Regions from separate parts of the Homo sapiens genome. Here regions 2, 3 and 4 are each linked to region 1. Evidence: fine-mapped expression QTL. A gene starts in region 1. Each other region holds a variant in brackets. All regions are shown on one strand. Distances are between the middles of the regions.

Evidence for each region.
Region 2: its variant is fine-mapped to the expression of ACSM1 in blood mononuclear cells (TOPMed, PIP above 0.99). The same link has a PIP of 0.9 or more in T cells, esophagus muscle, gastroesophageal junction, lung, pancreas and transverse colon.
Region 3: its variant is fine-mapped to the expression of ACSM1 in whole blood (TOPMed, PIP above 0.99). The same link has a PIP of 0.9 or more in aorta, esophagus mucosa, lung and monocytes.
Region 4: its variant is fine-mapped to the expression of ACSM1 in whole blood (TOPMed, PIP 0.98).

Annotation. Positions count from the first base shown.
Region 1 is chr16:20,694,509-20,702,619 of GRCh38, forward strand. It overlaps ACSM1 (acyl-CoA synthetase medium chain family member 1), which reads right to left and starts at 3,172. Exons shown (of 14, transcript NM_001318890.3): 1 at 3,128-3,172. It also overlaps a transcript of ACSM3 not described here and the pseudogene LOC124903661.
Region 2 is chr16:20,602,321-20,610,431 of GRCh38, forward strand. It overlaps LOC107984831 (a long non-coding RNA gene), which reads left to right and starts at 7,858. Exons shown (of 3, transcript XR_001752102.1): 1 at 7,858-7,990. It also overlaps the pseudogene ACSM5P1. RefSeq lists an enhancer at 1,523-2,722. The variant C/T (reference allele first, on the strand shown) is at 4,362.
Region 3 is chr16:20,659,295-20,667,405 of GRCh38, forward strand. It overlaps ACSM1 (acyl-CoA synthetase medium chain family member 1), which reads right to left. Exons shown (of 14, transcript NM_001318890.3): 7 at 2,500-2,579. Among named protein-coding and RNA genes, the nearest start is that of ACSM1, 34 kb to the right of the region's middle. The variant T/C (reference allele first, on the strand shown) is at 3,500.
Region 4 is chr16:20,671,603-20,679,713 of GRCh38, forward strand. It overlaps ACSM1 (acyl-CoA synthetase medium chain family member 1), which reads right to left. Exons shown (of 14, transcript NM_001318890.3): 5 at 1-69. It also overlaps a transcript of ACSM3 not described here. Among named protein-coding and RNA genes, the nearest start is that of ACSM1, 22 kb to the right of the region's middle. The variant C/T (reference allele first, on the strand shown) is at 4,642.

The sequences.
Region 1 (8,111 bases):
GCTTAGTTTGGGTGAGAATATCAAACTCAGTTGCAATTTTTCTATGCAGGTGTCTATATGACCTCAGGGTCTTCCTTAAAATACAAACTCACCATTTTTCCTGAAGACAGTCCAAACAACCCCTTACTAAGTGACTAAAGACCAAAACAAAAGGGAGAGATATAGTGAGGGAATCCATTAACCAGTTATCATGGTTTGAACTGTGTCCCCCATGAATGTATGTGGTGAAGTACGAACCCCAATATTTCAGAACACCACTGTATTTGGAGATTGGGTCTTTAAAAATGTAATTAAGTTAAAATGAGTTATTAGGGTGGGCCCTAATCCAATATGACTGGTGTCCTTATAAAAAGAGGAGATTAGGACACAGACACACACAGAGGGAGACCATGTGAATATGAAGATAGCCAAGGAAAAAGACCTCAGAGAAAACCACCCTGATCTTGGACCTCCAGCCTTCAGAACTTTGAGAAAATCAATTTCTGTTGTTTAAACCACTCAGTCATTAGTAATTTTCATGGCAGCCCTAGCAAACCAATGTACTCCTCTTGATCAAATAAAGAAGAAATGACTTTGGCATCATCTCACAAATGTGTTTGTGATTCTAATTTAATCTTCGTCACATGAGAGGGCCAAACACAGTGCCCAGCTGTGGAGAACTGTGGTAGCTGAAACAGCATGGCCCTAGAGATCAAACAACACGGGCTCAAATTCCAGCACTTTCATTTCCCACCCACATAACTTGGGGCAATTTATTTAACCTCCCTATAAAAACATAGGCATATTGGCAGCACCTATTGCCTGAAGCCATGGTGATAAATGCACGATATCCTGCAAAAAGCATTCAGCACGGACAAGTATTTTAGAAATAAGAGCTGTTGCTAGTTAACACACTTTATAGGGAAGCTCTTATAGAGTAGTTAAGCCAGAGGAAAAAAATTTCCTTAACTTTTGGAGTTAAGGTCTAAAGAGAAGGAATGGGGATGAATACCTGAACATAGACACCATAGGACTGGTATATGTCCAGCTTTTTCACTGATTATCTGTCTATCTATCTATCTATCTATTACCTATCTATTATCTATCTATCATCTATTTATCTATCTATTACCTATCTATTATGTATCTATCGTCTATCTATCTACCTATTACCTATTTTCTATCTATCTATCATCTATCTATCTATCTATCTATCTAGATATATAAGAACCTGATCTCCAAGTGTTGAGGACTGAAAATCAGATATCTATATGTCTATGTCTGCGTCTATCTCTATCTCTGTATGTATGTTAAGCTTCATTTCTAAATCTATTTCTGTATCTATATACCAATATTTACATTTATACCTATATCACTATCTGTGTATATCTATACATTAATATTAATGTCTATAACAATAACACATGTACACTGTAGTCATGTGCCACAATATGATGTCATTGTCAGTGATGGATCACATATACAGAGTGGCCCATACAATTATAATGACATATTTCTACTGTACCTTTTCTATGTTTCAATACACAAGTACTTACCATCGTGTCATGACTGCCTACAGTATTTAATACAGCAACAAGCTACATAGGTTTGTAGCCTAGAAGCAATGGGCTATAGCATATCGCCTATATGTGTAGAAGACTATGCTTTGTGGGTTTGTGTAAGTACACTCTATGAGTTCCCATAATAACAAAATCACCTAACAATGCATTTCTCAGACGTATCTTGGTTGTTAAGTGATGCATGTCTCTATCTCTATCACTATCTCTGTCTCTATCTCTATCTCCGTCTCTGTCTCTGTTTCGATATCTATTTCCATCCACATCTGTCTTCAGATTTGACTTCACAAAGCTTAGTTTGTCTATTTCTCACCGTGCTGGACATAGTAAGTGCTCAACAAAAAGTTAGATTCTTCCCTTCTTTGTCATAATTCAGAAAACTGAGTGATGAAAGTCAGAAAGAGAAAAGCCAGTGTGCCCACAAATTATCTGAGTTATAGAAAAATGTATTTTTTCTTTCTCAAGTATTTACTATAGATGTACCATGTACAGTTTTAGATACTATTGGAGATTAATTAAACTGAAAGAGTTCCTACCCTGTTAGAGCATATCATTAAAGCACATCCTATGAAATCATTTTAAAGAACAATTTTCTGAACTGCTTAAAGTGCATTCTGAAAGCAATTTGACATGGTAGCTTTGAGAGGCAGCTGGGCTCCCCACTGTATTCCCAGATACATAGTGCCTTGAACAGCTCCTGCAACTAAGCTTTGACTTCACAGGACTTGGGACTGATAAAGCTATTTAATGAAGCAACATACTTACTGTGTTATAGGGTATCCCAGAGTTACAGAGCCAGGGCTAGATGTTTGTCTCTGTTGTCTAGCAGCTGGGTCTTTGGTGCTGTTCATGTCTCTGAACTTAAGCGCACAGTAGTAATACCTTCTTCCCAGCTCCCCATAAGGATTAGTGTGATAATTTACTTGCTGGCACTGAATGAAGTGCACGGTAAGGACTCAATAAATGTTGAGGTACCTTTTAACTCCCAGCAAATTCTGAAGCCAACCCCCTCCCCATTAGATGTTAACCATTTTTTTTGAAACTGTCACCTGGACTGGAGTGCAGTGGTGTGATCATAGCTCACTGCAGCCTCAATCTCCTGGGCTACAGTCATCCTCCTGCCTCAGCCTTTCAAGTACCTGGGACCACAGGCATGTATTACTATGCTTGGATAATTTTTTTTAGAAGGCATTCACTTTATAGAAAGTGAGCCAACTTCTGCATAGATAGAAAAGATTTCCTTCAAACATTCATCTCTGACTTTGTGCCTGTCTCCCACGGCTCACCACATTCAGAGCTGCCTGACACTAAACCAGTCCCCATTTACATGCCAGCCACTGTGCTAAACATATTACATGTACGTTCCTATTTATTCCTCTCACCCAATATCACCATTGTCATTTTGCCTCTAAAATGAAGTGCCAAGAAGTTAAGTGACTTGCCCAAGGTCACTCAACTTAAAAGTAGCATTGCCAGAACTTAAAATTGGATTACACACACACACACACACACACACACACACACACACACACACACACACAGATAGAAGCTGACCTTCACCTCTGTCTTACCTGGTACTGTTTAGGACGTAGCTGAACTAGGTCCCTGGTAGGTATGGAAAAGGAGGTTGAGCTCTCTTTTGTAGGTTCAGTTCTCTCTGATCAGGTGATCCGCAGGATTGTGCACCCAGCAGAACTTGGCTTCTGGCCACAGCGAAGGGGGACCTTGAACAGAGAACTTGTTAGGAATTGGGTAATTCAGTAGGGGGAGGAGATGCTCAGGTAAAATAGGACAGAAACAATTACAGGCCTCCACGGAGAGATAATCACTTAGAAAACAAACCATGTGGGCCGGGCGCAGTGGCTCGCGCCTGTAATCCCAGCACATTGGGAGGCCGAGGCGGGCGGATCACGAGGTCAGGAGATGGAGACCATCCTGGCTAACACGGTGAAACCCCGTCTCTACTAAAAATACAAAAAATTAGCCGGGTGTGGTGGTGGGCGCCTGTAGTCCCAGCTACTCGGGAGGCTGAGGCAGGAGAATGGCGTGAACACGGGAGGCGGAGCTTGCAGTGAGCCGAGATCATGCCACTGCACTCCAGCCTGGGAGACAGAGACTCTGTCTCAAAAAAAAAAAAAAAAAGAAAAACAAACCACGTATACGAAGTCACCTCCAATTCCGGTGGCATGGCTAGGGGTGTGAATGAACTAGATCCAATGGTGCATTTTCACTAGTTCTCTGTGGCTAACCTGCTCCCCCTTCCCAGCCCTACATCACCATAGTCTCCCTTAAATGACAGCTGAGAGTCAGTGTAGCCTAATGGATAAGAGCCTGGGCTCTGGAGGTCTGGAGGCAGAAAGGTCTGAGTTTGAGCCTTAGGTCTGCCACTTAACCTCCATGTCATCTTTGTGGACCTTCTTGCTCTGGGCCTCACCTCCCTTAATTGGTTTTCGGTTGCTTTTGAGACAGAATCTCATGCTGTCACCCAGGCTGGAATGCAATGGCATGGTCTTGGCTCACTGCAACCTCCGCCTCCCAGGTTTAATTGAGTCTCTTGCCTCAGCCTCCCAAGTAGCTGGGATTATAGGTGCCCGCCACCACACCCAGTTAATTTTTGTATTTTTAATAGAGACAGGGTTTCATCATGTTGGCCAGGGTGGTCTTGAGCTCTTGACCTCAGGTGATCTGCCCGCCTCAGCCTCCTAAAGTGCTGGGATTACAGGCATGAGCCACAGCACCCAACACCTACCTTATTTGTAAAATAGGAATGATAACAACAATACCTACCTCCCAGGGTGTTTTCTTTGCTTCTTCATTTGTTTGTTAGAACTAGATGAAATAATTTATAAAAAGCATGTAGCACACGGTGCTGGGCATAGTCGATGTTGGCTCTTTTTATTCACTTGGGATTCTCAGAGGAACAATTTGGTATCCTGGTAAAATGCAGGGTCTTTGGAATCCCAAAGTCTTGAGCTTAATTAAGTCCAACCTCAGGCACTCACAAGAAAGCTCTTGGGTGAACCATTTTCCTTTCAAAGCTTGGTCTTGACATTTGTAAAATGAAGCAGGATTTGTTAATAAGATTTGTTGCATGGGATCATTGAAAGGATTATGTGACACCAAGCCTGTAAAGCACCTGGACCAGGCATTTAGATGGAGGGTTGATAGTGATATTGCATTGGATAAACCAAGGTAGTCATAGGTAGCGGCTTGTACTATGACTTTTCTACTGGAGCCATTTTTGGGGCATTGTTAGAGAATGAGGGATCTCCAGTATTTTCATTGAAGCTGGGAAGAAATTATTTCTGATCAAAGTCATGGCTAAAGATTTCTGGAGACACCCAGGACATTCCTGACAGGACCGTGTGGCAAGCTAGGATAGTTTGGGTTTTTAATATTTAGCTTTCTGTGGCCAGTCACTGGAGAGGTGAGAAGGCAGGGCTAGTTGACTGGCCATGGTAAGCTAAACCTTAAACACCCAAAGCATCAAAGTACCAAAAAACAAAGAAACGAACAAACAAAACAACTAACCAAAAAACCTCTGTTACTAAAGAGAAGGAGCAGCCACTTTTCGGAAAAGAATGGAGACGGGGGAAAAGCCCTTGACACACTCTCTGCATCTGAGTAGTTCTCCCCTGTGGAACTGCAACATGAAGGCATGGACAAGAAGACAGGCTCTGGCACCAGGCAGCCTGGGCTTGAGTCTAGCTTTTACCAGTTACCAGCTCTGTGACATTGAGCAGATTTCTTATCCCTCTTTTCCTCAATTTTCTCATCTTTAACAAGAGGTATACAGCGGACAAAGGAAAACTCTCCAAACATTCTATGTGTGCTCCTCTTTCATTTCCCAACCTCTCTTAAAGCTAAAGTGAGGCCATTAAACTCTAGTTCTGAACAATAAACTCCATGTGGAAGTGTTACAAGTCACTTCTGGCCTAGGGCATTTATTTAAGAGCAGGTATGAGTTTTCTGTACTCTCTTCCCCTGATTCAATGCTCCTGGAAACCATATATGGAGATAGTGACATCGTAAAATGGCAAAGTCTCTATCAGCCTTGTTCTCTGAGTGACTTCATGTAGCTAAATATCCTACCAACCTCAGCTTTTTGAACTTGCTATCGTCTGCTTATTATAGAAAACCTATGATACATTCATTCATTCAGTGGATATTTAAGGAACATTTAGGCGTGCTTTAAACATGTAAGACAAGGTTGGTGCTCTCAAGAGGTTTACATGCCTATGATAGAAAGGCAAAAGCCAATAAGCAAAAAGTCAATTAAATAAGCAAGAGGATTTCAAATGGTGATACTGCCAAAAAGAAAACAGAACAGGGCAATATGATGGAGAGAGTGTGGGGAGGTGGCTAAGGATGTTCTCCCTTAAGAGGTGACATTTTGAGACCTGAAGGAGGAGAAGCAGCCAGCTAGGGAAAAAGAACTCCAGGCAAAAGCCACAGCAAGTGCAAAGCCTGAGGCTGACATTTTCAAGGCATAGGTGGGGGACTGGGATGGCAGATTACTGAGTGAGAAGTATGATAAAGTGTGAGGTCAGAGACACAAGCAGGAGACATGCCATTAAGGATCTTTATGGACATAATAAGGAGTTTGGATTCTATTCTAAGTGCAATGGGTGGGTGCATGGAAGTCTCGTGAAGATTTTAGGAGGAAAGAGACATGATCCTATTAAGTAACTCATTTTCTTGGTGACTTGATTTTGAAATAAAGTAATACAGGAAAGTAAAACATTCAGAAAAAGAGGTCAGATTTGCATTTAGAAAGCCCACTCTGGCAGTTCTGTGGAGAAGATATTTTAAGGAGGCAAGAATGGATGTGGGGATGCCAGTCGGGAGGCTACTGCAATAGACTAAACAAGTAATGACGGTGGCTCAGACAAGAGTTATGGCACTGGAGATGGAGGTAAGCAGACGGATATGGGATAGATCTTTAAGACAACCTTAGGTGGACTTGTTGATGGTTTTGATAGGGAGTGAATAAAAAGAATCAAGGATGAATCTCAGCCTTTGACTTCTTCAATAATATAAATGGTAGGTCATAATTTATATATAAAAAATGCTGAAAAGATTATATAGCACATACAAAGTCACGGAGGCTACAGAAGGCAGGAATAGGACTTGAATCATGATTTTATTTAAGCTAGTTTTTCCTGCTTATAGGCTGTCTCTATCCTATCTGCCATGCTTCTCAATACTCTGGAATTGATGACAATAGAAAATTCCAGTGTGGTTTTATTTTTGTTCAACCATGCCGTATAAATTGACCAATGACTTCCCCACTCATCTCAGATCCAGTATTGCATGGACTTGTATACTGTGGAAGGAGTGATTTGAAATAATGTTCGGAAGACACTTGACAATGTCTACCATACAGCAAGTGCTTTTCAAAGGGTGGCTGTTACAAATTTTTAAAAAGAAACTTCAGAGCCAGATAGACCAAACTGGAATCTTTTTAAAAAAATTTTTACTTTAAATTCTGGGATGCATGTGCAGAACATGCAGATTTGTTACACAGGTATACATGTGCCATGGTGGTTTGCCGCACCTATCAATCCGTCATCTAGGTTTTAAGCCCCATGTGCATTAAGTGTTTATCCTAATGCTCTCCCTCCCTTTCCTCCTCACCCCTTGACAGGCACTGGTGTGTGATGTTCCCCTCCCTGTGTCCATGTGTTATCATTGTTTAACTCCCACTTATCAGTGAGAACATGCAGTGTTTGGTTTTCTGTTCCTGTGTTAGTTTGCTGACAATGATGGCTTCCAGCTTCATCCATGTCCCTGCAAAGGACATGAACTCATTCTTTTTTATGGCTGCATAGTATTCCATGGTGTATATGTGCCACTTTTTCTTCATCCAGTCTAGCATGGATGGGCATTCTGGTTGGTTCCAAGTCTTTGCTACTGTAAATAGTGCTGCAATAAACATACATGTGCATGTATCTTTATAGTAGAATGATTTCTAATCCTTTAGGTATATACCCAGTAATGGGATTGCTGGGTCAAATAGTATTTCTGGTTCTAGGTCCTTGAGAAATCCCCACACTGTCTTCCACAATAACTGAACTAATTTACACTCCCACCAACAGTGTAGAAGTGCTCCCATTTCTCCACAGCTTTGCCAGCATCTGTTGTTTCCTGACTTTTCTTTTTTTATAAGACAGAGTCTTGCCCTGTTGCCCAGGCTGGAGTGCAATGGTGCAATCGTGACTCACTGCAACCTCCACCTCCCAGGTTCAAGCCATTCTCCGGCCTCAGCCTTCTGAATAGCTGGGATTACAGGCATGTGCCACCATGCCCGGCTAATTTTTTGTATCTTTAGTAGAGATGGGGTTTCACCATGTTAGCCAGGCTGGTCTCAAACTCCTGACCTCGTGATCTGCCCATCTTGGCCTCCCAAATGTTTCCTGACTTTTTAATAATCACCATTCTGACTGACGTGAGATGGTATCTCATTGTGATTTTGATTTGCATTTCTCTAATGACCAGGGATGATGAGCTTTTTTTCAAATGTTTGTTGGCTGAATAAATATCTCCTATTGAGAA
Region 2 (8,111 bases), 92 kb before region 1:
TCCGTAGCTGCTCTGGGAGTGCTCGACCATCTCGGGGTCCCCGGTGGTTCCGCTGGTGAAGTAGATAGCCAGTGGGTCTTGACACTTTGTCCTCACGCAGTTGTGCTCTGTAGATGCCTCCCTGTAAAACGTAAAAACACTAGGTGGCACTACCACGGTAAAAACAGTTAGTAGCACCAATAATATGTATAACAACAATATGACTACCGTTTCATAAATACCACATGCGAGGTGCTGTGCTGAAAGCTCTGGCTTGGGTAATCTGCAACCACCTCAAGGGGCAGGTACTATCATTATAACCCTTTTGCAGACCAGGAGACTGAGGCTCAAAATGGTTACATAACTCACTCAAAAGAGCCCATGCTTTCTTACCAAGGTATGAGGACTTTCTGGTAGAACACACACACGTCCATGTCTATAATTCTGCACATTTAGGCACAGCTTCCACCCCCATCCCAATTTCTAATAATTTAGAACTCTTTTCTAAAGGTTTCCCCCAATATGGGGTTTTGAGATCTAGGTAATTCCCAAAGTTCTGTGATCTGGATGATCAGCTAATCCACGGGCTCTCATCCCTGGCTGCACTGTGAAGTCCCCTGGTAAATTTTTGGAAGAAACTTGTCTGTATCCACCCTGAACAAAATAAAATCAGAATCTTTGATGTTTTCTTAAATGCTTCTCAGTAATTCTAGTAACAGCCAAAATTGAGAACCACTGATCTAGGCCCACCTGACAGCTCTCAAAATCATATGAGCTGATTTTTTTTTTTCTTTTGAGATGGTGTTTCGCTCTTGTTGCCCAGGCTGGAGTGCAATGGCGTGATCTTGGTTCACTGCAACCTCTGCCTCCCGGGTTCAAGTGATTCTCCTGCCTCGGCCTCCCAAATAGCTGGGATTATAGGCATGTGCCACTACATCCAGCTAATTTTGTATTTTTAGTAGAGACGGGGTTTCTCCATGTTGGTCAGGCTGGTCTCAAACTCCTGACCTCGGGTGATCTGCCTGCCTCAGCCTCCAAAAGTGCTGGGATTACAGGCGTGAGCCATGGCGCCTGGCCCTATGGGCTGATTTTTTAAAAAAGATCCCCAGGGCTCTTGCTCAGCTATGTCTGGTTAAGTAGGTCAGATATGAGGCCTTGTCATCTGTATTCAAAACAGCACCCAGGTGAATCTGATGCAGCTGGTCTGTGGGGTGAGCATGCATGACTCAATGGTTCAGGCCCCTGAGAGGCTCCTTTTGGGTTCTGGCTTCCAATCAGGACAAAGTCTCAAATTCTGAGATGGGTTTCCACCAGGCCCTTGCTCCAAGGCAAATATGCTTTCGGCTCTGCCCACTCCTGACTTGACTACTTTTTAGCACCTTGGGCAAGTCACTTTAGTTTTCCAAGTCTCAGTTTCCTCATCTGTAAAACTGAGTTAAAGGGCCCATCACAATGTCCTTTTCAGGGATTAAATAAGATGATGTTTGATCCATTATGGTGTTCTGAACACCAAACACAATGCTTGTCGTGAAATAGATGTTCATTAAATCTTCGCTGCATGAATGAATGAAGGTGAAGGCTTACATAGCACAGTATCTAGCGATACACTAAGTACCCAATACATGGCCACTAGTTTATTATTAACTGACCACCTGCTATGTGCTAAATGCACCATATTGGTTATTTCATGTACTCTGAATGGTAGCTCTAATAACTACCACCGCATTATAGAAGCAAATGAAGCACAGAAAAGCTGCTGACAAATCCAGCACTGACTGAATGAGGGACCTTGAACATTAAGGTAGGGACCAGGATTATGCTCAAGTCAGCCTGGCTGCCAATGGGAGTGTTCCTCTCTGATTCGCTCTCTATGTGTGGAATCAGCAATGCATTTCATCTCTTGTTGCTTAAAGGGGAAATGACTTCATTTTTCTGCTGTTCTCCTGGAGAGCCCCAATTCACCGGAGGAGTTCCCTGAAGTTCAACCAGCCTGGCCGACTGCTGTCTGACACCAGCAGCTTGGTCTTGAGGGAGGGGCATTCGGCGCTGATGGTGTCCACCCTTGGAGCTAGGGAGTCACTGGTGATAATGGACTTGGCCCTGGACGCGTGCAGCCGGTACTTGAGGTCCTTCTGCGTCAGCTGAGTGACACCTGGAATCATCACAGTCCCTGGCATAAAACAGAAGGGGATGTTGAGTGGATAGTAGGGAAGACTTTGGGTATAGAGGTAAGAGATGAAGGCAGGAAGGGGCTGGGGAGGGTTGGAATGCATGAGCTGGAAGAGGTAACAATAATAATAATAACAGCCTAAAAACCCTAGCCTTCTGAATAAGTGCGTGATCACTTACTCACTCAGCATCACTTAGTAGTCATCTTATGATTAGACAGAAATTTCTTTAAATGCCTGAAACCAATAAATCTCCCAGTCTTTGGGTGGGTGTTGGGGCACACCTTTAGCACTCAGCCAGGCAATTAACAATCCTGCCTTAGTCTTAATTTCCTGCATGCTCCAACTCTCAGTCTGCCAGAAGTGGGAGCCTAGAGTTTCCTCAGATCTTTCCTAAGCATGTGCAATGCCCTGGGAAAGCACACAGCCTTACTTACGTGTGTTGATTTCTAGATTTCCAGGAATACAATAGAATTTTTTAAAGCTCCCATAGACATTGGATTCTCCAGCTTTTCTTTTTTCACTCTTTGGTGAATCTATTGTTTGTCCCACTGTTATCCATCACCTTAGGCAACAATGAAGCTAAAACATTTGTCTGTAATTGTTTTGGACAAAAACCCCCAGGGAAAAGGCTTTTCTCATTGGTTGAGCTTCAAGTTGATTCAAATACAGTTTTACAAGTAGGGTCTTCCAAAGGACCAATGGGCAGCTCAAATAATAACAGTTCTTCATAAGTGAAGCTTTGAAAAAACTCCAACTCCATTCTGGCCCATCTAATGGTTGCTGTGATGCACCAGAAATGGGGGCTGTTATTTTTCAAGGCTACCACATAGCTGGACAGTCCTTATTCTACCATTTTTTTTCCTGACCTAATCCTGCTTGCTTGTTTTTATCATTAGGAGAAGTCTTCTAAGGATGCCCCTAGTATTGCAAAAAGAACTTCGATTTTTGTAGGCCATCAGTAATGGAGCATCCTGGCTTCATCTCTTACATGCAATTCTCATTTAATTCTCACTATTACTCTAAGTAGCATATGGTCTGACTACCATTTTACAGATGAGAAAGTTGAGATCTAAAGAACTTAGGGCACTTGTCCAAGGTCACACTTCATGTACATGGATGAACAATGTCTATCTGACTGCAAATCCTGCTTTTAAGTCTCAGTCATCCTCATACCACCTTCATAAGTTTCACCACATCTGCTGACAGTTAATTTTATTGTATCTACTAACAACGCCATTTACTTCATACTTTTTCTTTAAACAATCTCTTCTTATAATTAACATGAATACAATTCTTTGAATTAAATTTTATGTTTCCAGTTTTGTATTCTCCAGCTTTTCTTTTTTCACTTTTTGGTGAGTCTATTGTTTGTCCCTACTGTTATCCATCACCTTAGGCAACAATGAAGTTAAACATTTGTCTGTAATTGTTTTGGACAAAAAGCCCCTAGGGAAAAGGCTTTTCTCATTGGTTAAGCTTCACATTGGTTGAAATACAGTTTTACAAGTATGTCTTCCTCTTATAAATGAAAAGTTAGTATCATGTAACACAAATAAAAGGTAACCATGAAATAGAGAGACCCAACAGACACAGATATAAGAGAAAATAAAGAAGAAAGCAGATGCACAGAGACACACAAAGAAATCAGGGTTATCTTATTCAATTCTATGTATCTGTTATGATCTGCAAAAAGCTTTGAGCCTGAGCCCTATTCTTTCCTTATTTTATATTGTTTTGTTGTATTTTATTTTATTTTTTGAGGTGGAGTCTCACTCTGTTGTCTAGGCTGGAGTGCAGTGGCATGATCTTGGCTCACTGCAACCTCTGCCTCCTGAGTTCAAGCAATTCTCATGCTTCAGCCTCCAAAGTAGCTGGGACTACAGGTGTGCACCACCATGCCTGGGTAATTTTTTTTTTTTTTTTTTTTTGTATTTTTAGTAGAGATGGAGTTTCACCATGTTGGCGAGGCTGGTCTCGAACTCCTGACCTCAGGTGATCTGCCCTTCTCGGTGTCCCAAAGTGCTGGGATTATGGGCATGAGCCACCGCGCCCGGCCTTCTTTCCTTATTTAGAAGAGAAGGGCATGACAGTGAGAGAGAGACATCAAAGATAGAGTAGCAGCAAAACAAAACTTCCTCCTTCAGTTGATGAACAACTGGAAGGGAATCGGAAGGGACATAACTGTCTCACTGTGTGATTTGGGCTCAAGAA[C/T]GCAGGACACTTCAGAGAAGGAACAAGCATGTCTAAGGCTCACAACACTGACTCAGAATTTTTTTCCTAAGTGTCAAATGCCAACAGTTTACATTTTAGAACTAGCAAAATTCCCAGGTCCAAATTTCCTCATCAACATGTCTTGGAGCCTTGAGTCTCATTGTGGTACATGAGGGCAGCCTCAGATGCCCCAGATGGACTCTAGGACAGAACAGGCTTCATCTCTTCCAGCCGACTCCACACATCCAGCACATCATGGGCAAAGTTGAAGTATTCAGGCACCGGCTGCCTTCCCAGGCTGATGGCTTCCCAGGTGGCCACGATCTTCTGAGGAACAGGTAGAGGTGCTGGCTGCCCACAAGACCCACAGAATGCCCTGGAGTTCCTCAGTGCCTGGAGGACTAGGTGTCTCAGCCATGGTCTCATGCGGTCGCCTCCTGTCTGTCACCAAAGAGAGGAAAGAGAGCATTGTCATAAATTCTGGGCTTTGGGGACAACACAGAGGTTAGGAGAAACCTGTGGTCAGTGCTGATGGTGACTGTGGTCCCTACTGACTTGTAGAACAAACTCTCCACATTTCTGAGCAGAAAGTCTCAGTTCTGCTGTGTGATGGTCATTTCTCTCCTCTGACCCCGAGGTCCGTCCTTTTGACCTCTCACTGACTTGTGGGTCTCTGGGTCTGAGGTCAGAACTCAGAGCCCACTTCTCCAGGCTCAATACTTCAAAGGCAATCCCTCAAAAAGCCTTTGGCCAATCCTGAACTGACCTTGCAAAGCTGAAGACAGCTCTGGGGCAGCACCGTCCAAAAGAAATAGAATGTGAGCCACCTGTGCAATTTACAATGTTCTAGTACCATTGCCAATAGTTTGCCAATCCTCTCCCTTGGAAAGAGATATGCGACTTGTTCTTCCCATTTGGTCTTTGTCCTGAAAACAACAAAACCCAGAAAGCAGCACCTCTGCAAGATTTCCCTGTGTATCCTTGCATTTTTGCAACTACATGGCCAATTGACAGGGAAAAGATCCAATTGATAGAGTGTCTCAAATTGTTCCAACATATAGAACATGAATAATAATTATTTTCGAACTCCTGTTCAAAGGAAAACTCACTGACATGAGACAAGTGACTTTTGGCAATTACCATCAACATTTTGTTATAAAAATGCTCATACATACAACATTGATTTGTTAACATTTTAATGAACATGACAACACATATCTACCCATCTTTCCATTCCTCTACCCATCCCTCAGCCCATCTTATTTTACATGTATTTCCAACTGAATTGGAGGCATCAACATACTTCCTGCTGAATAGTTTGGCAAGACTAACATTAACTAGAATTCAATATTTCTTTATAAAATTTTCTTCTAAAGAAGAGTGACATAGAAGAAAATATGCAAATCTTAAGTGTGAGTTTACTAACTTTGAAAAGTACCTACACCAGCATAACCCACCTCCTTTTCAAGATCTACACTATTATGTCACCACAGAAAGTGAACTCTCCCTCTTCCTAGCCAATCCCTTTCTCATAGTAGGTTAATTTTGCTTAGTCTGGAATTTCACATATATAGATGCATGCCATGCCATAGGTACTCTTTTGTGTCTGCCTTATTCTGCTCAACACAATGTTTCTGAAATCATTCCCATTGTTGCACAGATCTCTAATTCAATCCTTTCCATTTTGGACTCAGCATATTCTGAGTTTAACCTGTTGAATGGCTATCTCTGTTTAATTCGCCATCTTGAAACATTTAAAATTAAGATGTTTTCAAGAATATACAGTTAAATCCAAGGAATCAATGTAGGAATGTTATCAGAAGGTGTTGGAAGTTACTCAGGTGAAATCTTTGTCTTAATTCACGTAAGAGTCTAATGGAATTAATATCAAGAATCTTAGAGAAACCCCATACTATTCATGCCATTTTTATGACCTCTACATTGGTTATGTTTAAGCACTAAAATTTGATACTTATTTCTGAATGAAATCATCTCTTTATTGTATTTTTTTTACTTATGCTGATCTTTAAATAGCAAAAATTCATGTACTCTAAGAAAGAAGTATGATTCAGAGGGATTCTTTCATCATATGGTACATGACAAATAGATACAATGTCATATTCAATTTAAAACATAAGTAAATATAAGTAAATAAGTAAATAAAAGTAAATAACTTTAAAGAAAAGGTAATTACCTTATACCTAGCTTGTCTAACCCACAGCTGACAGGCCACATGCAGCCCAGGACAGCTTTGAATGCAACCCAAAATGAATGTGTAAACTTTCTTAAAACATTATGAGTTTTTTGTGTGTTTCTTATAGCTCATCAGCTATTGATAGTGTTAGTGTATTTTATGTGTGGCCCAAGTTGAAGAAAATTCTCCATCTTCTAATATAGCCCAAGGAAGCCAAAAGATTGGACATCCCTGCTTTAGACCAAGAAAAAAGACACACCACATTCACAAAGCCTAAGAAGACTACCAGCCATGCGAGAAACATGGGACTGGTAATTTCCAATCTTTCTTGAAACGGTGGAATCCCCTGGTGATATCTGAGGGTGCACTTACTTCTTGGAGGAGGTTGAGGGTTTCTAAGGATAATTCTTTGTGACTGAAATATTGTAAATGTCATTGACCCTTCTCATTATTTCAACTGCTATTATTCCAGGTCATCAATTTTCTGCCTGGCCATCTTCATCCTGGGCCTGACTTTTTTTGAATTCCTTGGATGCTTAACATTGTTGTTGTGTTCCTGGGAATTATTAAATTTGCCATTTTCTTCTGGAATACTAGCTTTGGTATGAGTATACTGACTTCCTGTAGAGGTATACTTGTAATCATAAATAAGAAGAAATCATTTTAAACAATTCATGGTTCTGGACTTCATTATGAATATTGGGTTTTACCAAAAAAATCAGAAAAAAATAATTTATTAGCAGAAGAATTATAAAAATAGCTGCCATTTACATTATGAAAATTAAATAGGTTTGCATTTGTTTAGTAGGATGCCAACAGAGCTTTTGGTCAAAAGTATTTTTTTTTTTTTACCTTTGTTCTCTTTATCCATGAGGGCAAAGATCATGTAAAACAATTTTGAGCATATAGTAGTTGCTTAACTAATAGGCATTGGATGAGTTATTAATTTGTGATAATAGTTCTTTCCCCTTAAATCTGATTGTTTGTTATTATGTTAATTCTGAGTCCAGAAACACAAATTTTTTAAGTGTTGATTTCTTGGATTTTTTAATGTGCTATTGCGCTTATTTTAAAGGCTAGTAAAACTGATCTTCTAAACAATTGCTATTCTCCTAGTAAATGTTCCTTCAATGGTAATGGAAGCCATGTGCAGACAAGACACCCTGCAGCCCTTCAATAAGAGCTGGCAGGCTGGCTGGATGAGAGGCTGGCCAAGGGGGCAGCTAGGAGGCTGGTCCAGAGGAAGTCTGAGAGGCCGGCACTCAGACCTCTCAGAGAGACTGGCTGAGAGGCTGTCTGGATTAAGAGCCAGACAAGAGGCTGCCTGAGAGGCTGTATGAGAGGCTGGCTGCCTCAGAGGTTGACTGGTTGAAAGGCTGGCTTAGAGGCAGGCTGAGAGGATGGCTGGATTAGAGGCTTGCTGAGATGCTGACTGGTAAGTTGGCTGGCTGAGAGGCTGGACAAGGGGGTGGCTGAAAGGCTTGCCAAGAGGCCGGCTGGCAATCTGGTACAGAGGCTGGCTGAGAGGCTGGTCCAGAGGATGGCGGCATGGGAGG
Region 3 (8,111 bases), 35 kb before region 1:
ATCAGACAACTCTAGGAATGAGTCTTCCTAGTGCCATGGGACCTGCTGCTGTTTGTTGGCCTACATGTGCATTCTATGGAATGCTTTTTGGCCAAGAGCGGGGACTGAGGACTGAGCTCTGATTTTTACAATCTTGCCCAAATTCCTATCTAAGGTGCCTGGGGAGTCATACCTTACAAACCATAAATTCTCATCAGATGGGTTTTATTTAACCCTGTATATTGTGACTTAACTTTCCAATCTGACTCTGGCATAACATTACGAGACAAGGAAGAAAATCAAAATATTGTACCCCAAAACATGTTTCTCCGCCATATCTTGAAATTGCCCTGCAAAGTCTCTTGTGGGAAAAGTCCACATTCTATAGAGAATCCACTTTCCCCTTCATTTTCCTTCCTTCCTTTCCATATCCAGGAGATAATCAACTAAGAACCAGGCACCCCTTTTAAGTCCGATAAGACACATTTTACAACCTTTCTCTCTGAAGTCTGCTATCTGAGAGTTTCCTCTGCACAATAAAACTTGGTTTCCACAATCCTTTCTCTTAACCTGAACATTTCCTTTGATCCCAGGTCTTCAGATAAACTAATCATCAATGACAAAATGTTTAAATTTACCTATAACCTGAAAGACCCCGCTTTGCATTGTCCTGCCTTTCTGAACCAAACCAATGTGTTTCTTAAATGTATTTGATTGATGTCTCACGCCTCCCTAAAATATATAAAACCAAGATGCATCCTGACCACCTTGGGCACATGTTCTCAGGACCTCCTGAGGGCTGTGTCATGGGTCATGGTCACTCATATTTAGCTCAGAATAAATCTCTAAAAATATTTTCCAGAGTTTCACTTTTTTCATCAACAGTAGTAGTTTCCTATGTACAGCATGTGATATAAAGTCTCTTGTCCCTTTTTCCCATGAAATTTTCCCAAAGAATACAAAAACAATCACAAAATAATAATTAGATTCCCTGAAGAAAATGGAGAAAAGTGATGGAAGTTTGAAAGCCAGCTGGATGCATCTAGCATGAGGCTCAGCCCAGCCAGCTCTTGGTGATGAGGAAAGTGGCACCATCTAGACCACTTTTCCACCTCACTACCCTCTCCTGATACAGACAGGGTCAAGAGTGAGGATAGGAGGGTTGTGTTCACTGAGGATCTCTTCCTCATTCTTTTGAAGCTAAACCAAAGTACATAAAGTGGGCAGAGTCTCAGATGGAATCATTAGTTATGCCATGATAAGATGTGTGCCAAGTTTGGACCAAGGCCATCATGTGAGGAATGTTCCAAAACTTGGCTGTCATATGAGCTTTGAAATACAGATGGAAACAGAATACAGCCAGACTGAAGCTTCATGAGTAAAATCAAATTATAATTCAGAGTTAGCTCTGTAAGGGCAATCATTAAACTCTGATATTTTAACTTTTATGTCTAAAACATATTAGCTCTGATTTTTGAACTAGCCATTTCAATTTCAGAGTCCCTAAAAGATACATAAATATCCATAAGTTTCAAAGAGTGTGTTTTGGTTTAGCTTAAAATTAATTCTCAAACATAGGAAGATGCAAAAATAAAGTTGTATTAAGATAACACCACACACCCACCAGCCTGGCAAAAATTAATAAGTCTGACAATACCAAATGTTGGCAGGAACATGGAACAATGGAAATTCTCCTGCCCTGCTTATATAAAGAAGCATAAATTGGTTTGGAAGATAGTATGGTATTGTGTTGTATCAGTGTGACCCGCAATTCCTCTCCTTGAAAAACTCTACAGAAATGCATGCTTGTACACACCAGGGTGCATGTCCTAGGATTCTATGTAGCATTAAACATCAATAGCCTCAAAGCGAAAACTACAGAAATGTCCATTAATGGTAGGACTGGTATAAGAAATTGTGGTATTTTCATAAAATAGGATGCTGCACACAATTAAGATAAACTACAGCAATATGCAACAACAGGGACACATCTTAGAAACACAATTATTATATAATAATGTAGCATTACCTGTTTAAAATTCGAACACATGTAAAATAAAATTTTGGTTAGGGATAGTTCCTTAGGAGGTAAATTATAAAGGCAAGTAAGGAATTAACAACATAAAGGTCAAGATAGTTGTTTCCTTTAAGGGAGATGGAAGTCTCTGAGGTACTGGCAATGTTATGTTTTTTTGACTTGGTGAGTGGGTTACACAGATATTTTAATTTCAATAATTTATTAATCTGTAAATTTCTGTCTTATGCATTTTCTGTACAATTGTTATTTTACAACTGAAATGTTTAAAAAGGAATCAACCCACAATCATGCAAGGCTCACTGAGTTTCCTTTGGATCTCTGGATTTGCTTTAACTAATTAACTTTTGATCATCATCGCCACCAACACTTAACACACAAACACACACACACTCCTCAAAGAACCAGAAGAAAAACAGACCATGATGTATCAGATTCCTTAAAATCTTACCCAAAGATGTTGTTACAAGCCACTTCTACCATACCTGGTGAAATCCTGCTGCAGAATCATTCGATATATAGATGATACCCCCCAAAAGTGGTTAATGGGGTATTTCAACAATGTCTGGAAAGGGAAGAGAGAAGAAATTTTATTTTTACAGTTAAGGTTAAACTAACAGCCAATTATTAGCAGTCTAGTTCTGACCTTCCCACTAGAAGAGCCCATTTGTTAATTTCTTAATCCTTTAAATACACACATACTGAGCATGGATTTCATACATGGTATGCATCAGGTACTGTTGGGGAAATACAAAAACGCAGATAACGTTCCAACTCCTATGGTGAGTAGCCACTAATAGGATAAAACAGGACTCGAATGATAAGGCAGAAGTGGGTAGATGTCATAAGAAATACTTGAAGTACAAAAGTTCTGTAGGAACACAGGAGAGGGAAATACTCTTTCTAGTTGTGTGTCCCAGGGGCTTGATGGAAGAGGTGGTATTTAGTCAGGACATTAGCAAATAGATATGGTGTCTACAGGCAGGGAGAGTGGGAGTCTCTTGGAGATAGATGAAATAACAAGAAATAGGGTCTCAGGAGCTAAAGAAACATTTCAGTCAAGTCAAATAATATGATTTATTTAGACCCACTAGAGAGGAGCAAGAATTAAATTTAGGAAGATAAGGTAAGTTGGAGCCAGGTTATTTAGACTCTAAAATGTTTGGTACTCATGATTAATTGGCTGGATGTGTTTTCTTTCCGAGTTTCAGATCAGGGTGGAGATACACTAAGAGAGTGAAGAACAGTAAAGAGAAGAGAAAGTGGGTTTGGGTATCTTAATTTAAATCCTGTTACTTAATTTGTCTGTAATTCAATTTCCTTATCTGTAAAATGGGAACGTCCATATATTCCATTTAGAATCATGATGAAATATAATTGTCATTTGTGGACAAATCTAGCTCTACTTCCAGTCCCTCCCTTCATAAAGACCCAATCAGCTTTCAATCTCTAGCCTCTATCTCTTTAATATCTCACATTTATATA[T/C]GCTTTTAAAATTTTTGTCCTACTCTCACCCCTGGCCCACTGCCCCTACCCCAACAGGTGTCTTTACATGTCTGTGAAAGTCTCAGGCCCACTCCAGCAATGTCTGTGTCAGTAACCTCACCCCAGGCACAGTGAGTTGGATTGCTGACTTGGTGACAGACAATTGCCTTAGGCTGTGTTGGTAGAAGAGCTGAGGCAGGACTGGCTTCTCTGTCATGATGTAAAAGAGTCTTGGAACATGTCCTGGGTCCAGGGCCTAAACCCCCTTGTGGCCTTTGGGACACCAATCTCTGTGCCAAAGGGTGGAAGGCTGCCCTGCCGCACCATAATCTAAGCCCAGGGCATAAAACCCCTTGTGGCCTCTGGAATGTGCACAGACTTGTTGGCTACTCTCCCAGGCTCATAAATATGTTCTCCATTATCTCAGGTAGCAGAGCATATTACATATGCATCAAAGAAAATGCTAAACCGTCACAGTTATGCTTGATGCACTGCTACTTTTCTACCCCCATGTCCTCCCATCCTCACCTCTTTACCCCCACATCCGCATGTCCTCACCACCTGCTTCTTTGTTTGATCACCAATAAATAGTGTGGGCTCCCAGAGCTTGGGGTCTTCACAGCCTCCATACCAGTGTTGGTCCCCTGGACCCACCTTATGCACTCTTAACTTGTCTTTTCTGATTCCTTTGACTCCGCCGGACTTTGTAGCCTCCACGGCCTTGTGTTGGGTCTGATCACCCCAACATTCTGGACCACTCACTCAGCCTCTAGTTGACCTGGACTGGTTATCTGGGAAGGGGGAATGTCGCCCTGAAATGCTGTGATTGCTATGTTTGACTATGTGCATGTGAAGTAGCAAAAGTGTTTCTACAAACAGAAACAAGGAAGCACATCTATAGAGAAAAGCAGAGGAGACACTGAAGCTGCCTTAATTGCTGGTATCTTTCTACTTTCTGTTTTAGATCTTTATCAAGCTCATATTGCTCTTCTCCTACAGAATAATGAGCTATTCTAGTTCCCCCTTCCGTGTATTTCTTTTTCCACTAAGCTACGTTGAAGTAGGCTTCTGTTACTGGCAGCCAAGGGAGCTCTGCTTAGTAGGTAAGAATTAGACATCATAGGTGTCTAAGGCCTTTCCCAGAAATTGGCACTTAGTAGGTGTTCATCAAATGTGGGCTCTGGCTATTATCATGTAAGTTGTAATCTATGACTACTCCTGGTGCTTTGCAGCTTTCAGTAGGGGTGTGGAACGGAGATCAGCAGACTCTTGCAACAGATTTGGCAAGGACTAAGTTGACAGGGGTGGGTAGAGAGGAAATAGAAGGAATGTTTTGTTTTACTAAATTGAATAGTATTTATTTATTTATTTATTTATTTATTTTTGGTCTAAATGCCCCCTTTAAAAGGCAGAGTGGGAAGATGGATACAAAGAAAATACCCAACTGTCTTCTGTCTTCATGAGACCCATCTCACAAGTAATGATGCCCACAGGCTCTAAGCAAAGAAATGGAGAAATATCTGCCACACAAATGAAAAACAGAAAAGAGCAGGAGTCCTTATTCTTATATCAGATAAAAACAGACTTTAAACCAGCAATGATTAGGAAGGACAAAGGAGGGCATTATATAATGATAAATGGTTCAGTTCGACAAGAAGACTTAACCGTCCTGAATATATGCACACCAAATGTTGGAACACCTAGATTTATAAGGTGAGTTCTTCTTGACCTATAAAAAGATTTTGCCAAACAAAAATAGTGGGGGACTTCAACAACACACTGAAAATGTTAGACACATGATTGAGACAGAAAACTAACAAAGAAATTATGGACTTAAACTCAACATTTGACCAATTGGACCTAATAGACATCCACAGAATAATTTACCTAACAACCACAGAATATACATTCTTCTTGTTCCCACGTGGAACATATTCTAAAATTGACCACAGGTTCAGTCATAAAGCAAGTCTCAATAAATTCAAAAAATCAAAATCTTACCAAAGTACATTGTTAGACCACAGTGCAAGAAAAACAGAAATCAATGTCAACAAGATCACTGAAAACCATATAAAAACATGGAAATTAAACAATTTTCTCCTGAATAACTCTTGGGTGAACAAGAAGTCAAAAAAGTTTCTGAAATTAATGAAAATGAAAATAGAGATACCATCTACCAAAATCGTTGAGATGCACCTGAAGCAATGTTAGAGGAAAGTTTATAGCACTAAATGCCTTCATTAAGAAGTTAGAAAGATCGCTAATTAAGAATCTAATATCACTTCTAGAGGAACTAGGAAAAAAAAGAACAACCAACAAACACCAAAGCTATCAGAAGAAAATAAATAATTAAAATTAAAGAACTGAATGAAATTAAGATGCAAAAGTTTATACAAAATATCAATGAAACTGAGAGCTTGTTTTTCAAAAGAATAAACAATATTGATAGACTGCTAGCTAGATTAACAAAGAAAAAAATGAGAAGATCAAAATAAGCCCAATCGGAAATGACATAGATGACACTATAAATGGTCCCACAGAAATATAAAAGATTCTCAGAGACTATTATGAACACACTGATGCACCTGAATTAGAAAATCTACAGGAAATGGATAAATTCTTGGGAACACACAGCCTCTCAACATTGAACCAGAAAGAAAGTGAAAACCTGAACAGACAAATTACAAGTTCTGAAATTGAATCAGTAATTACTAATCCCAAAAAGCCCTGGACAAGATAGAATCACAGCTGAATTCTAACAGATATACAAAGAACTGGTACCAATCCCTCTGTAACTAATCCAAAAGATTAAGGAGAAGGGACTCCTTTCTAACCATTCTATGAAGCCAGAATGCTTTTGGCACCAAAATATGGCAGAGATACAATGACAAAAGAAAACTCCAGGCCAATATCCCTGATAAACGTAGATGCAAAAATTCTCAACAAAATACTAGTAAACTGAGTCCTGCAGCACATCAAAAAGTTAATTCACCATGATCAAGTAGGCTTTATTCCTGGGATGCAAGGTTGGGTCAACATATGCAGATCAATAAACAGGATTCACCTCTTAAACAGAATAAAAAAGAAAAGCCATATGATCCTCTTAGTAGGTGCAGAAAAAGCTTTCAAAAAATCCAATCTCTCTTCATGATAAAGCCCCTCAAGAAATGAGGCATTGAAAGAACATACCTCTAAATAATAGCCATCTATGACAAGCCCACAGCCAGCATCACACTGACCAGGCAAAAGCTGGAACCATTTCCCATGCGAATTGGAAAAAGTGTAGGATGCCCACTCTCACCACTCCTATTCAACATAGAATTGGAAGTCCTACCCAAAGCAATCAAGCAAGAGAAAGAAATAAAAGATATTCAAATAGAAAAAAAGTCAAACTATCTCTTTTTGCTGACAATATATGATTATATACATTAAAAAACCCTAAAAACTCTACCAAAGGGTTCCTGGAACGGATAAACAACTTCAGTAAAGTTCCAGGATATAAAATCAGTGTACAAAAATTAGCATTTCCATACACCAACAATGTTCTAGCTGACAGTCAAATCAAGAACACAATCTGATTTACAACTACCACTAAAAATGAAATACCTAAGAATACATCTAACCAAGGAGGTGAAAGATGGCTACAAAGAAAACTACAAAACACTGCTGAAAGAAATCAGAGATGACACAAATAAATGGAAAAAGATTCCATGCTCATATATTGGAAGAATCAATATTGTTAACATGACCATATTGCCTAAAGCAATTTATAGATTCAATGCTATGCCTATTAAAATACCAATGTCATTTTTCACAGAATCAGAAAAAACGACTTTAAAACTCATATAGTACCAAAAAGGGCTTGAATACTGAAAAGAACAAAGCTAGAGGCATCACGTTGCCCAACTTCAAACTATGTCATAAGGCTACAGTAACCAAAACAGCATGGTACTGGTACAAAAACAGACAAATACACCAGTGAAACACAATAGAGAAGTCACAGCTATAGCCATATGGTCTTCAACAAAGTGAACAAAAATAAGCAATGGAGAAAGGACTTCCTATTCCATAAATGGTGCTGGGAAAACTGGCTAGCCATATGTAGCAGAATAAACCTGGGCTCCTACCTTTCGCCATATACAAAAATTAACTCAAGATGGAGTAAGGATTTAAATATAAAACATTACACTGTAAATATCCTAGAAGAAAATCTAGGAAATACTCTTCTGGATATTAGCTATGGCAAAGAATTTATGGCTAAGTCCCCAAAACCAATTGCATCAAAACCAAAAATTAACAAGTGGGACCCAATTAAACTAAAGAGCTTCAGCACAGCAAAAGAAATTATCAAGAGAGTAAACAGCTTACAGAGTGGGAGAAAATATTTTCAAACTATGCATCTGACAACATCCAGAATCAAATATCCAGATTCTACAAAGAATTTAAGTTATTTGTAGACTCTTATATGTGATGTCTAATTAGAACTAATATCAGAATCTACAAAGAACACAAATCAACAAGTAAAACCCAAATAATCCAATTAAAAAATGGGCAAAGTACATAAACAGACACTTCTCAAAAGAAGACATGCAAGCATCCAACAAACATATGA
Region 4 (8,111 bases), 23 kb before region 1:
CTGGTGAAGAAGATGACCATTGGGTCCAAGGTCTTTGACTTAACACAGGTGTGTTCTGGGGATGCTGATCTGCAAAGGGGTTCAAGACAAAAGGAAAAAAGTCATGATTGCTGTTTCTTCATCTTCTGGGAATGCAAAAGAAACATAAGGCACGGACAGGAAACTGGGAGTTTGCAACACTAGAGGAAAACTGGCTCTCCCGGAGTTAGGCATCACACTGACTTGATGGGTGATTCGGACATGTGGACCAGCATTTTTTTATTTGAAAAATTAGTAAAATACAATGAATCTTAAGTCATTTAATCTTAAGTAATTTAAGTAATGAATCTTAAGTAATTTAATGAATTCATTAAGTAATCTAATGAACATTTGAATAGCACTTGCTATGTTCCAGGCAATGCTCTCAATGAGTTACAAATATGAACCATTCAGTACTCAGAGCAACCCTAGGAGATGAGTACTACTCTAATCATGCCCATTTTGCAGGTAAGGAAACTGAGACTCAGAGAGGTTAGGTAATTTGCTTGGTAATATACAGCTAGCAAATGGCAGAGCCAGGATTCAAACTCAGTCGGCATCCTAGTCTGTGCCCTTAACCAGACTGCTAAGCTTGTTTTTTAAAATTAAACTCTGTGACCTTGGTGATGAGGGGTGGGGAAGAGAAAGAGAGAAAGGGGGAGAGTAAAAAAAATATATTTAGTTGGGCATGCTGGTGGGCGCTTATACTCCCAGCTACTCGGGAGGCTGAGCCAGGAGATTAGTTGTGAACCTGGGAGGCTGAGCTTGCAGTGAGCCGAGATCAAACCACTACACTCCAGCCTGGGTGACAGAGCAAAACTCCATCTCAAAAAAAAAAAAAAAAAAAAAAAATATATATATATATATATATATATAAAAAACATATTTATATATTATATATCATATATTAAATTTATATATAAAATTATATATAAATATATAAAATATATACTTTTATGTCATATATAATATATACTTACATGTCATATATAAATATAATTATAGGATATATAATTTATATATAAGTATATATAATATATATCATATAGTATATATTGTATATAATTTATATATAAGTATATATATACATATACATGTATATGTAAGTATATGTAAGTTATATATAATATTTATGCTTATATATAAATTATGCTTATATATAAATTATGTACAAAATATGTATAATATATAATATATATTATATAATATATAAAAATATAAATATATAATATATGTAATATATAATATATAAATATAAATATATATAATATATAATAAATATAAATATATATAAAACATATTACATATAAATATATAAAAACATTTATATATTATATCTCATATATAAAATTTATATATAAAATTATACATAAATATATAAAATATATACTTATATGTCATATATTATATACACTTACATGTCATATATACATATAATTATATGATATATATACTTATATATAAATTATACTTATATATAAATTTGCATATTATATATATATTATATATAAAATTACTGCGATCAATGTACCTCTGCCCTAGCATGAGCTTGAGATGGCAGATAAGATCTGTGGTTCCCTCAGTCTCTCTTGTTTCTCAGGAGCTTCCCCTGGACTGAGAGGGCCTTGGGCCTACTACAATTGTAAATGCAAGGCTTCTATGGTGTTCAAAGCAACTGCAAATAATCCCAACACGAGAGGAAACACTAGGTCTGCTGGTCTTGCTGTGAAATGGTATCATACTGACTTTGGGAAATTCGAGGGATTTTTCAAGAGTACTCTGTTTTAATTAAATTCTCTGACATTAGACTACAGCATAAGATGTGACTTTGCTGTAATGTTTGCCTTTTGGGGTTGAAATAAAGAGCTTTAAAAACTCAAGTATTACTCCAAGAAAACAAACCCAGCATGGTTTGTGTGTATAATGTGAGACATGACTGAAGGCTTACAGAATCAGAGTTTTGGAGGCAGAAGGGGCCTTTCTTATCTCCAGCCTTCCTTCACTTTGCCCCCAGGTGTCTCTGAAGGCACCCAGTCCCTGGGAGATGGAAAGAGTTTGCTCCCAAAGCTACCTATAAGCCATAGTTGGCAATTCCATTTTTCTTGGGGTCTTAAGTTTTACCTTAAAAATTCATTTTAACCTTTCATTCAACTACTTCATATATTTTTAATAGAAAAATAAGACTTTAGGTTTCCCACCTACAAGGAATATGTAACACAATAACCCCCTGACTTTACAAATCTCCTTTGCACAGTCCCAGGGGTGAGTATATTTTAATGAGAGGAACATGGAAGGTTGACTTGCTGAAAAATGTGAAATTTTACAGATAAAGCAACTGAGATCAAGAGAGGGCAAGGAACTAGGTCAGGGTCACATAGCAAAACAGTGACATAAGTGAGGTTTCTGACAACTGACTTGATGACCTTCCTACCACTGGCTGCTTGTCTCTCACCACTTGGGAGTGAATGGCATTCTTCTACCTGTGGAACAGGAATTAAAAGAAATTAAAGAATGTGTAAGCAAAAACTCAGTTGTATGTAAGAAAACCCAGTTGCCCCAGAGGAAGAGAAAGAGGTGGAGTCCTTTAAAAATTAACTGCCTGTTTCTCTGTCTGTGGCTAGTGAGCCTTATCTCTCCCTTTCCCAGGCATTGTGAAGACCCTGTTTCTCTAGCTGTGCAGCTGCAAGGTCACTAGACAGATAAACCCAAGTTGCAAAACATGTTTTTCCTTGAAAAGTAAGAAATGATGTAATGCATGTCTCAATTGAATAACTGTCTTTGTTTCTCACTTCTGTAATATGCTTCCCCCTGAACAGATCTCTCCCTCCCCCCTCTCCACCCCCAAAATGCTTAAAAGGTAACCTGACTCTTTGTTCTGGGCTCAGTCCTTTGGATATTAATCTGACTGGGTTGGCTGGTGCACCTAAATAATACATATATCCTCCTCAACCCCATCGGTCTCTCTGATTCCTAAATCATCCCCAAACATTTCTGGTGGCCCATATGGGGATTGGAGATAACAGATTTACTGTCTCCTTTGCCCATGGGACTAGGGCCCTGGGGCTGTGGAAGACCTGGCATCCAAGGCATGCCATGGGGGAGTTTCACCCGGATGGAGACTGGCTCTCCCCGCATCCTGCCCAGCAGTGCAACTGAACCTGAGATGGGGCTGCAGGATGACACCAGCACTTCAGGAACCGCGGTAAGGAGAAAGGGCCCAAGGTAGGAAAGCCCATCCCATAGGGATGAAGGTGAGCTTGATCACCTCCCAGGGACCAACCACTCATCCAACCCAGAGTGGCTGGGGGTGGCAGGAGTGGCCCGCCAATTTGGATGAACCTCGTGTCCCCCTAACAAAGTGAAAGTGGTTCACTGGTGGAGAAAATGGGCCGATACAGCGGCAAGTGCAGCAAGGAAGAGTTTGCTGGCAGAATGGTAAGAGTGGCTTGCCACCCCAACTGGGAGTGTGTGGGTGTGTGCGGACCTACCCAGGACACCAGAGAGGTTCGTTTCCTCTGATGAAGAGTCCTGGGGTAGAAGTGGTGTGTGTATGTGTGTGAATGTGGGAATCTAACTAGGCTCACCCGGGACACGAGAGAGGGTTGTTTTGTCCGATGAGGAGTCCTGAGGCAAGGGAGGTGTGTGAAAGTGTGTGAAAGAGACGGTCTCAGGAGAGGCCAATGCGGGGAGTAATGTGGGGAGGCACAGATCCCTTAGCGCAGGCTGTGTGCTCCCAGGCGAGTGTGGGGGAAATCAGTCCTAGGATGTTGCATATGGCTGATAGGTTGAGCTTCACAGCTGCAGCAGTCTGTGGCAGGGAAAGGCACGTTCCTGGCTAAGCAGCGTCTGAAACTCCTGTAATAGGACCCAGTCTGGTGGACCTTAGAGTGAAAGTGCACCTCAAGGGAGGAAATGGGAGGAAAAGCATGGAAACCAACTCCTTTTGGAGTGCATGATAAAGAATTTTTAAAAAGGATTTAGAGCTGATTATGGGATGAAACTGGATGTTCAAAAGTTAAGGACATACTGTGAATTAGAATAGCCCTCTTTTAGTGATGGATGGCTGACCAATGGCACTATAGGTAAATTGGCTGTGTGTTTTAAGGTAGTGACTAGCCCTGGAAGACAGCCAGGGCATTCAGACCTAGTCTTTATATTGATTCATGGCTAAATGAATGCAGCCCTGCCTAGCAGTTTATTGTAGAACGTTCACAGCTCACACCCAGAGAAACCAGCTGCGCTGGCGGCTACGGAGTTAAAGGTAAAGTCACAGAGGCTTGTAGCACCAAAAGTGAAAAGTGAAAGCCAAAAGTAAAAGTAAAAATCAGCTGCCCTGGCAACTACGGAGACAAAAGAAAAGTCTCAGGAAAGAGAAAACCAGTTTTGCAAGAACCACAGGAGGGAATAGAGACCCCTCCTCCCTACATTCCAATCTACCTCCCTTTACCAAGGCTAACTGCCCCTAAGGAATTAAGTTCAAAGAGATACAGGCTCCCAGTCTCACCTGAGAAGGAGAAATTAGAGCTCCAGGAAGTTAAAGTGAAAGGCTGGAAAAGTCAGGGAGGGTGTCTCAGGTCTGGTCACGCCCAAGTTATGCTTATGCCTCTTAAGAGGACAAGAGGA[C/T]ACCCACTAGGACCCAGATGATGCAGTCCAGCTTCAGCACCTACAAAAGTGCCAAGAAGCCCTTCTGCAAAGGCTAAAGGCTGGTAAAAGAAAAAGGCAACCAATATAAAAAATCTCAGAGGTGCTCCAGGGTGCAGATAAAAGCACCAGCCAGTTTTAAGAAAGACTTTTTGAGGCATTTTGGTTGTACACTCTGTTTAACCCTAAGGCTGCTGAAAATCAGTGCATGGTGGACACAGCATTTGTAAGGCAGGCCCAAGGAGATATCAGGCACAAATTGCAGAAGTTAGAAGCTCCGTAGGTGTGAATGCAACTCAGCTTATTAAAGTGGTTACAAGGTGTACATTAACTGAGTTCAGGAGGCAGAGAAGAAAGCTGATCAGAGGCTTAACAAAGGCTAATTTACTAGCAGCAGCCCTTATGGGAAGAGAAGCTGGCTTTGCAAGGAGGCATGGTCGTGGGCGTGAACACAGTCATGGAAAAGGCTGGTTTGGACAGGAGTTTGAAAGCTGGCCAAGGCTAGAGAGAGATTAATGTGCACGGTGCAAAAGGAAATGACACTAGAAGAATAAATGCCCCAAAAAATAAATAAATAAAATAAGGAGAATGGTCAAGGCCATGGTATAAAAAAAAACCCTCCAGCCAAGGGCTACTGCACCCAGGAGAAACCCAAGACTCCCTGCACCTGCTGTGAAAGGCAGGACATAAAGTGTCAGAAAAAAGCTCAAATCTGCTCTAAAAGTCTCCAGTATTTAAGCCTTTATATAAGCCAAGAGGAAAGATGGCTTAGTAGTAAACAAAAGCAATCTGTTTGTGCACTTCCTACTCCAACCACCTGGTGTCAAATAAGAGAGTTCCTAAGGGCAGCAAGGTTCTGCTGCATTTAGATCCCAAATTTCTAGCTTATGGCTAAGCCACAAAGAGAAGGAAAGAAAGAGCCCCTCCTCTAGGAGGCTAACCAGGAGAAGACTTTTAAAGAAATTAAAAAAAAAAAAAAAGCCTTGACTCAGGCCCCAGCTTTAGGACTGCCAGATCTAACTAACTAAGCTTATCTTCTTGTATGCCCATAAGTGAAAGGGAGGCCATGAAGGTTCTAACTCAAGCCATAAGGTCATGGCATCACCCAGTGACATACTTATCCAGGCAATTAGATTCTGTGGCACTTCACTGGCCTCCTTGTTTTAAAGCAATAGCTGCCACTGCCCTACTGGCTCAATAAGCTAACAAACTAACTTTAGAGACTGTGAATACCCTAAACCCGGCTACCTTGCTCCTCATCAAGTCAGTACCAGGAGACCCCCTTCATTGCTGTGTAAATGTGATAGATGAAGTGTTCTCAAGCCAGAGAGATTTGACAGATAGGCCCCTTGGGGAGCCAGACATAGAATATTTTACTGATGGAAGCAGTTTCATACGAAAGGGAATCTGCTGAGCTGGGTATGCAGTGGTGACTTTGGACTCAGTAGTAGAGGTGCAGTCTTTGCCTACAGAAACTTCTGCTTAGAAAGCAGAGCTAATAGCTCTGACAAGAGCTCTCTGGCTAGCAAAAGACCAAAAGACAAATATTTACACAGATTCCAAATATGCTTCTGACACTTTCCATGTTCATGAGGCTATTTACAAAGAAAAAAAAGGCTTTTAACTGCTGAAAGTAAAGAAATAAAGTACAAGGAAGAAATTCTACAGCTCTTAAATGCTGTATAGGCCTTAAAAGATGTGGCAGAGATGCACTGCAAGGGGCACCATAAAGGAAGAATACTAAAGGCTAAAATAAATAAATAAATAAATAAATAAATAAATGAGACAAAGAGGCAAAGCAGGACAACCCCACCTTCTAAAGAAGAAGCCTTAGCTATGCCTCTCCTCCCAGAGATTCCCCTTCTGTAGATCCCAAGCTACACTCCAAATGAAAGGGCTTGTTTTGCCCAGAAAAATATCAACTACATTGAAGAAGGATAGTAAAAATTTTCCAGTGGGAGGCTAGCCATCCCTGAAACGGTGGCCCCCAGATTTGTAAAACAGTTCCACCAAGGAACTGACCTGAAAAAAAAACACACAAAAAAACAGCACTAAAGACATTATTAAGGCATCATTTCTATGTGCCATGGCTCACTGCTATTACTCAAGCCATTTGTAAATGAACAATATTTAACTTGTGTTCAGAACAATCCATGACAAGGGCTTACTCCACCCCCAGGAGTTCAGGAAACAGAAGCCATGCCATGTGAAAAACTGCTTATGAACTTCACCGAATTACCCTGTGATGGGGGCTATCAGTACATGTTGGTGTTCACCTTTTCAGGATAAGTCAAGGCCTTCCTCACCGGGACAGAGAAGGAACTAGAGGTGACCAAAGTGTTGTTAAAAGACATTATTCCCAGATTTGGACTGCCTCTAACTCTAAGATCTCACAATGGACCAACATTTGTGGCTGAAATAGTTCAGGACTTAACTTGACTATTAAAAATAAAATGGAAATAACATATAGCCTACAGACTGCAGAGCTCAGGTAAAGCGAAGAGCATGAACCAGACACTAAAACAACTGCTGAAGAAATTGTGTCAAGAAACTCATCAAAGGTAGGATCAGGTCTTGCCCATGGTCCTCCTCCAAGTCAGGTGCACCTCCACCAAGCAAACTGGGTATTCCCCCTCTGAGATTTTGTTCAGCCGGCCACCCCCCATCATCTGTAGACTAGAAGAAGTAACTTTAAGAAGGCAAATGCAGACTTTAAGTATGGCCATGCAAAAATGCATGGCTAGGTATAGAAAAATGCCTATAAGTCTAACAGACCCAGTACACCCTTTCAAACCTAAGGATTTTCTTTAAGTTAAAAAATGGAATCCAACCACTCTAGGACCCATACAGGATAGGCCTCATATTGTAATCATGTCTACTTCTACTGCTGTTAAAGTTGCAGGTGTCACACCTTGGATTCACCATAGCTGGCTGAAACTAGCAGCAGCAGTGACTCCCGACTATGACCAGTGGATTAACCAACAAGACCCTGATTGCCCCACCCGAATAGACCTACGGCGAATCCCAACCACCAGTAAGAAGGACAACTGCCCTGCTCTGACCACACTGGAGGCTGGTCAGTCTACACATGGCTGAAGCTTGAAGATCTTGCAAGCTCTGCTCTAGTCACATCCTGGAAGCTGACTAGTCTACACACAGCCGAAGCTAAGAGGACCATCTCTAGATAAGTAAATGTAGATAAAATTTATAAGCCTAGTTATAATTGTTCTGTTGTTACATTATTACTGCAAATGCTGCAAATGTCCATGCCCAGAGGAAGGTTTGCCATTCCTATGTGTAGTGTAAGCATGTTTCTATTACATACACTAATGTTGTTACCATTTCTGCCTATACTAGAAGGGGAGAAATCTCTAGAAGGATGCCCACACTGTGTACATACTACCTGGGTAAGGAATACCATAGTTAAAACTCTACTGTACCATACCTACAGT